Linked DNA regions of Homo sapiens. The protein of the gene in region 1 interacts with the protein of each later gene in a pairwise test. Each region holds a gene or a part of one and is shown on either strand. Other genes may lie near its edges.

Evidence for each region.
Region 2: the proteins of HACE1 (region 1) and PLXNA2 interact in a two-hybrid assay, tested with the Homo sapiens proteins (one large-scale study listed by IntAct).

What each region holds. Positions count from the first base shown.
Region 1 is NC_000006.12:104,769,168-104,772,993, reverse strand, and holds part of HACE1 (E3 ubiquitin-protein ligase HACE1), read left to right. Parts: intron 1-919; coding exon 920-1,069; intron 1,070-1,604; coding exon 1,605-1,801; intron 1,802-3,826. UniProt on the Homo sapiens protein: E3 ubiquitin-protein ligase involved in Golgi membrane fusion and regulation of small GTPases. Acts as a regulator of Golgi membrane dynamics during the cell cycle: recruited to Golgi membrane by Rab proteins and regulates postmitotic Golgi membrane fusion.
Region 2 is NC_000001.11:208,213,059-208,216,884, reverse strand, and holds part of PLXNA2 (plexin-A2 precursor), read left to right. Parts: coding exon 1-150; intron 151-166; exon of another isoform or gene 167-250; intron 251-3,826. UniProt on the Homo sapiens protein: Coreceptor for SEMA3A and SEMA6A. Necessary for signaling by SEMA6A and class 3 semaphorins and subsequent remodeling of the cytoskeleton. Plays a role in axon guidance, invasive growth and cell migration.

The DNA.
Region 1 (3,826 bases):
TTATTGAAAGTGTACAATTCAGTGGCATTTAAGTACATTCACAGTGTTGTGCAACCATCGGCCACTATCTATTTTCAGAGCTTTTTCATCACCCCAAGCAGAAATTCTGTACCCGTTAAGCAATATCTCCCATATCCCCTTTCCTCAGCCTTAGGTAACTACTAATCTACTTTACCTATCTATAAATTTGCCTATTCTAGATATTTTATAAAAGTGGATTCATATTCCATTGCACTGGATTTTCATAGTAATTGGTAACTTATTGCCCTTGCCATTTTTACTTTCACCTCAGAGGTAATTGTTTAAACTTAATTGTTTGCCATTAGAAAGACTTGGTTACCTTGTGGACTGAGGTGATTTTCTAATCATTGTTAACAGGCATCAAGTTCATTGACTAGGCCTGTCACTTAAGAGCAGTTGTACATTTACAGTTTTTAGTTATTCTCATAGTGTTCTACTCCTGAAGCAGCAAAAACTAGCAAATACTTACTGCACTGGCACATACAGATGAATGGGATAATGTCTGTCCTAGCGAACAGCCTATTGCCATACTGCCTAGGAAACTGTGTATATGTGCGTGTGTGTGTGTGTATGTGTATGTGTATATGATCCTCTGCTGTATTATTTCCAGAGTGTCTCTGATGATCTTCCAACTAATTTCAGTCAAAAGTACTCTAAAATTTTCTCTCTGCCATAGATTACTGTGACAAATATGTATGAATAAATGATTATCATCTATACTTCCAATTCTACTTACCACTTGTTATATTTTCCACAAAGAACATTTCTCTGGAAGTTTATACATAATGTAACCTTAGCTTTGCTGAAGTTGTATGTGAATTAGTTTATCTGCATCGAAGTAATCTTTCTTCTGCATATAGATTCTTAATAATATATTATTTTGTATTTATTTCAATAGGAACAACTTTTCAGCCTAATAGCAACTCTTATGTAAATCCTGATCACTTGAACTATTTTCGGTTTGCTGGGCAGATCTTGGGATTAGCGTTGAACCACAGGCAGCTGGTCAATATTTACTTCACACGATCCTTCTACAAGCACATTCTTGGTATGGCTCTATTATTATTTCTGCAGACATTTATTTATATTGTTTTTTTTTCAGTTTGAGGAAAACTAGATAAGCAGTAGTATTTTGGATGAGATAATTTTTATTTTGATTGGAGCCCATCTGTATATGTAAGCCATTCGGGGTTTGAAGGAGAAAAAAATGACCTACCTTTTTTTTTTCCAAACACCTCTAGTTAAGTTAGCCTTTTTTTTTTTTTTTCAATTTTTGTGTGTGTATTTTTATGCTAAGAATACATTTCAGTGTGAGTATACTTAAGATAATTGGCATTTTTGAAGTTTATAATAACTTCCTGAATAGTTATTTCAAAGAAAGATTACATTGTAACAATGTGAAAGAAACACAGAATTAATTTAACAGACTTTCAAATTCAGGAATCCATTTAAAATATGCTGTGTGTAGGATTGTATTATATTTTGCAGTTTTTCAGAATATCTGTAGAGGGCAGTATTTTACCATTAAATAGATAAGGGAAGGCAAAACCAGACTATAACTGCTGTATGTTTGCATTTTTTAGGTATTCCTGTAAATTACCAAGATGTGGCATCCATTGATCCAGAATATGCGAAAAATTTGCAATGGATTTTAGATAATGATATAAGTGATCTGGGTCTAGAACTAACTTTTTCTGTTGAGACTGATGTGTTTGGAGCAATGGAAGAGGTGCCTTTGAAACCTGGGGGTGGGAGTATTCTTGTGACACAAAATAATAAAGTGAGTATTTCAGTTTTTACCTTAACCATTGTTTGTAACTTGGCCCTGATAGTTTGCTAGTTACTCTAAATTCTTCTGGCACTTGTAGAAAAACTTTTACTATTACAGTATCATAGCAGATAAAACGTTTAAGTTAATAAAACAATCAAATGTTAAATTTTGAATTAGAAAGGATTATTTTGATAATTGTGCTAGCTGTGCTGAGTTGGTTCCTAAAAAATCGAGAGCACTTCAGCTGATAGTATAAATTGGGCATATGCATTTTGAGAAATTTGATTAGAAATATAAGCTTAAATGAAGATATTTGCAAAAATTGCTCTTTCATGTTTTTAAAGTGTAATATTAAAGAATTCTAATAGAGAAAAGAAATGCCAGTGTTTAAGCTTTCCACATACTTTTGGGATCCAGTAAGTTTGTTCGACCTTTTGATATTTTTTTGACTGTATAACTTGATTATTTATTTATTTATTTATTGAGACGAAGTCTCACTCTGTCACCCAGGCTGGAGCGCAGTGGTATGATCTCGGCTCACTGCAACCTCTGCCTCCTGGGTTCGAGCAATTCTCCTGCCTTGGCCTCCTCAGTAGCTGGGATTACAGGGGTGCGCCACCATGCCCAGATAATTTTTGTATTTTTAGTAGAGACGGGGTTTCACCATGTTGGCCAGGATGGTCTCAAACTCCTGACCTCAGGTGATCTGTCTGCCTCGGCCTCCCAAAGTGCTGGGATTACAGGTATGAGCCACCACTCTCGGCCTTATTTTTATTTATTATTACCTCTCCTCTATATGTATTATTTAAAAATCTTTGCATATGTTTTAAATTTCACTGTTCAAAGTCATAATATGACTTTAAGATTTAATATGGCTTGGTGTTTTAATATGTTATATGAGGTATTTGGAGTTAGAAAATATCATATGAATTCTAGTTCTGTTGCTTACAAGTAGCAGCTTCTGGTTGAACAATACTAAACTGCCCCCCTCCCTTTTTGTTTAGCTGAATTATAATTCCAAGACATCTTCAGAATCAATTTAACTATAAGAAACAATGTTCACTGAGCCATTTTTTAAACTATAGATTTAGTAAAATGTGGATTATTTTAAAAAGGGTTATGTTTAACAATTCTTCGAACTCAGTTTTCTGTAGAATTGGAATAATAATACCTCCCATACAGAATTGTTATTAGCATTTTGTAAAATGAAAAGCACAGCACAAAAGTTAGTTGTATTGGGTAGTTTTCTATAAAAATAGGTTCTTAGTTTCAGATATATAAAGGGAATTGGAAACTTATTAGCAAGCGACATAATTTTACCTTTTGAAACTTAAGATACTATAGTGTACAAAAAAAAGAGATTGAATTCTTGGAAATAAAGTCAGGAGTTGAGTTCTTACATATTCATACTTAGAAATTTTAAATTCTACCCTCTCATTTTACATGAAATGACACTAATCCTAAAGAGTTAATGGCAAAACTGGGGCCAAAACCCAAGCCTCCTAATTTCAAGTCTAATGTTCTTCATACTATATGCAAAATTAATTGTGTCGAGGAAGAACTTACTTGATTTTTAATGTAAGTCATGTTAAGCTCTAGAAGATTATAATAGTTAAACACTTAATTTTTAAACCTATATGATTTGCCAGTGAGTGAAAATATTTTTAGAATCTTTTTTTAGATTGTTCACCTTGTAGCATGTTTATTATTTTATTTTACACTGGAGGCCTACCCTCAATTAAGGGTAATGAAGTCATAGAATCTTTATTAAGCAATGATTGCCTTTGATAAGAGAACCATAAACATGATTCTTATCTGTGAATACTATATCTGGTGAGGTTTGTCACTCCTTTCAGATATATATGACAAAGTGGAAAGATCTAGTAACAATTGTATTCCAGTGCTTTGGGAGACTAAGGCAGGGGGATTGCTTGAGGCCAGGAGTTCGAGACAAGCCTGGGCAACATAGTGAGACCTCATCTCTATAAAAAATAAAAAAATTAGCCAGGCCTAGTTTTGTGTGGCTACAGTCCT
Region 2 (3,826 bases), on another chromosome or scaffold:
CACCACCCGCCCGATGACTCTGCCCTGTGTGCCTTCCCTATCCGGGCCATCAACTTGCAGATCAAGGAGCGCCTGCAGTCCTGCTACCAGGGCGAGGGCAACCTGGAGCTCAACTGGCTGCTGGGGAAGGACGTCCAGTGCACCAAGGCGGTAAGGAGGCACACACCTCGCTCTGCTCCTGCTCCATGACACAGGTTCCAACCTTCCTGTCCATGCCCTGGGGCACATCTGCTCCCACACCACCATGGACCTGAAATGAAAGAGGTTTTCAGACTCAGGTTATCAGGTGGTAACCAATAACGCAGGGTCTTACGTACACCAGATACTTGAGATATGTGTGTTGATTTGTTGTCATTTCAAATATATGTATTGAGTGCCTACATCACATCAGGTGCTATTGTAAATGCTGCAGGCTTCAGCTGTGAACCATACAACCCTACAAAGCTCACTGCCCTCATGGAGATTACACGCTAGTTGGGTGAGACAAATGAACACATAATACATGTTAGTTTGCCAAATGGTGATAATGGCTATAGAGAAAAATAAACAGGAAAGGGGGAGAGGCAGTAGCTGAGAGGACTGACTCATTGAGAAAGTGGTGTCTAAGCAAAAACTGAGGATGGGAAGAAAGGGAGCCACACAAGTGTCCAGAGAAAGCATTCCAGAGAGAGAAAGGGTGAGGAGAATGTGCAAAGAATTCAGGGCATGCCTGGAGTGTCTGAGGAACAGTAAGGAGGCAACTGCAGCCAGATCAGAGTATGTGAGAGAAAGAGCAGCAGGTGATGGGGTCCATCAGAAGTAATGGGGACCAGGTCATGTACACACAGAGCTGTAGGCCACTGTGGTTCCCAGTGAGGGGGTCAAGTGGAGATCAGAAATCTAAGTCAGAGGAGAGGGAAGGGAGTCTGGCTTGACCAACTGATGGAAAACTGGAGAAGAATCAGGAGTGTGGGCAAAGGCAAAAGAGGAGAGGATGAAAAGCTCAGAATCCAGACCTGAGGAAAGCAGAGACAAGAAAATCAGTGGCAAGCACTGCCCTGTCAGCGGCTCATGGTGCTGCCATCAAAGTATTCATGATCCACTCTTCTTCCATCATTCATCCAACCATCCAATCATCCATTCATTTATCCACCCATCTCTCCTTTCATCCATCCCCTTTCCTTCCCTCCTTTTATTCTCCTATCCATCTATCCCTCCATCCTCCTTAGCTCTCTCCCTCCATGCATCTCTCCATCCATCCATCCATCCATCATCCATCCATCCATCTATTCACCTATTTACCTAAACCTCCATTCATCTGTCCCTGATCCTTCCCTTCATTCTTTCCTCCATCCCTTCCTCCATCCCTTCATCCATCTCTTTATCCACTCATCCCTCTTTTTTCTCCCTTAATCTATGTCTCCATATCTTTATCTATCCATCATCCATTTGTCTACCTAGCCCTCCATCTATCCATTCATCCCTCTCTTTATTCATCCACCATCATCCATCTACCCATCCCTCTATTCATTTACAAGTAGTATTGAAGATCTTCTGAATGCCTGGCACTGTACTAGGCACTGGGGTTGCAAACATAAAAAGACATGATCGGCTGGGTGCGGTGGCTCACACCTGTACTCCCAGCACTTTGGCAGGCTAAGGTAGGCAGATTGCTTGAGCTCAGGAGTTCGAGACCAGCCTGGGCAACATGACAAAACTCCGTCTCTACAAAAATTCCAAAAATTAGCTGGGTGTGGTGATGCACACCTGTAGTACCAGCTACTCTGGAGGCCTGAGCATGGGAGGTGGAGGTTGCAGTGAGCCAAGATTGTGCTACTATACTCCAGCCTGGGTGACAGAGTGAGACCCTGTCTCAGAAAAAAAAAAGACATGATCACTAGTCTCACAGATCTTATAATCTAGTAGGGGGAAGAGAGAGAGAGAGAGGAAGAGAGAGAGAGCTAGAGACAGCTGGCAACATAATGTAGTGGCTCAGAGTTTGAGGTTCTGAGACAAAAGCCAGGCTTCAAATTCCATCTGTGTTTCTTCCTGCCTTCTTCAGAAGCACCTTAGCATCTCTACATTCTTATCTGTGAGATGGAAATAATAATGCCTAGCTCATGGGATGATCAGATGAGATAATACATGGAGAGATTAGCACCATGCCTGGAAATGTTAGGTTTATTATTACACAGGGAGTTAACAGGGAGTGTGAGAAGTGCAAAAGTAGGTTTCTTGTACACAGTGCTGAGGGCTCTGGATCTGCAACCTAGAAAAAAATATATGAGACCAAGGGGCCCATACGGCTACCTTCTGAGTACTCTAAATTGAAGGTGCCTGCCGTTGGGACCAAGCACCAGTACTTGAAGCAAGAAAACATCATTCCAAGGCTACGCTTCTATTCCTGTCATCATTTGCTTGGTGTGGTAGAAGAGTCGTGGTTAAGGCTTTGAAGTAAACCAGATGGGGATTAAAAATCAGTCCTACCACTTACTCCTTGTGTGACTTTGGGCAAGTTATGTACCTGGTCTGAGCTGTAAATTTTTCGTCTTTAAAATAGAGATAATATTGTCTTCTTTTCATGGTTATTATGAGGATCAAATGGAAAATTTATGTAAAGTGCTTAGCACAATACCTGGAACATAATAAGCATTCAATAAATGGGCCGCTATGATTATTAATATTAATCACAGTAGTAAAGAGCCAGCTATTTTCTTAGTTATCTTACTGTTGTAAAATGAGGAAGCTAGACTAGATAGTCTTTGGTTTTTTTTTTTTTAACGCCAAAATTTTATGGCCACTGGCCGTAACCAATGTGGAGAGGTGGAGAGGAAATGTAACCCTCCGTAAGGGTTAAATGCTTGCAGAGTCCAGCCTAGTTCCCATAACCCAGAGGGGGCCTTGTCAGGAGGAAACTGCTGATTCCTGCCTGCTTCTGAGCCAGAGGAAAGAGGAAGATGACACTCTTCTCTGCTCCAGAGCAGAGGGACAAGCCTGGGCTAGTTACAAAAGGATAGCAAAGGCACTGGGAGAGAGGTGACAGTGAGTGGGGCCAGGACCTTAGAGTGGAGAGCCCCTTGCCTCCACCCCTTCAGCACCACACCCTTCTGGTGCAAGGGCTGCAAGAGGAATGGCCCCTTAAAGACCCTGATACTCCAAAGAACTAAGACCCAGGGACCCAGAAATATTTTGGTGGCCTTAGAGGGGAATAAGGATAAATGAAAGAAGCTGTGGTCCCAGAGCTTGATTTTAACATGACTCTGGAATAACATGGAAATCTCAGATCAAAAATTTGAGCTCTGATCCCAGAAAAGAGAGGAAGAAGGGGGCTATCACTCATTGAATAGCAGCTAGTCCTAAAGGCTAAGCTTGGCAATTTAAGTGTTATCTCACTTGCTCCTCACAATGACCCCATAAAGCAAGAGTTATCTTCCCCATTTTACAGATTAAAAAACAAAGGCTCACAAAGACTAAGTAAGTTGCTCAGATCTCCACAGCTATAAGTGATAAAGCGGGGATTTGAATTTAGTTCGGCTGTATTACTTCTTAGTCCAGTCTCTCTCTATTGAGCCCTTCTGTTTCCAAGGAAAGCCATACACCAAGCTCTCACCATTTGAGCAAAAGTAAAGGTGCATCAGGTGTTTGGGAATATCTAACAATATATTGAAAAACAACTTGAGGAGGAAAGAAATTCCAGCCAATCCTAAGGGCTTAGGCTGAGAATAAATCTTTTTTTTTTTTAATAGTTCTGGAGATACTAGAATCAATAAGACAGTAGCAAAATCTAGGATTACCAGGTTTTTGCTTCTGTCATCATTTCTCAAAAGCTGACTTGGGCTACGCCTGT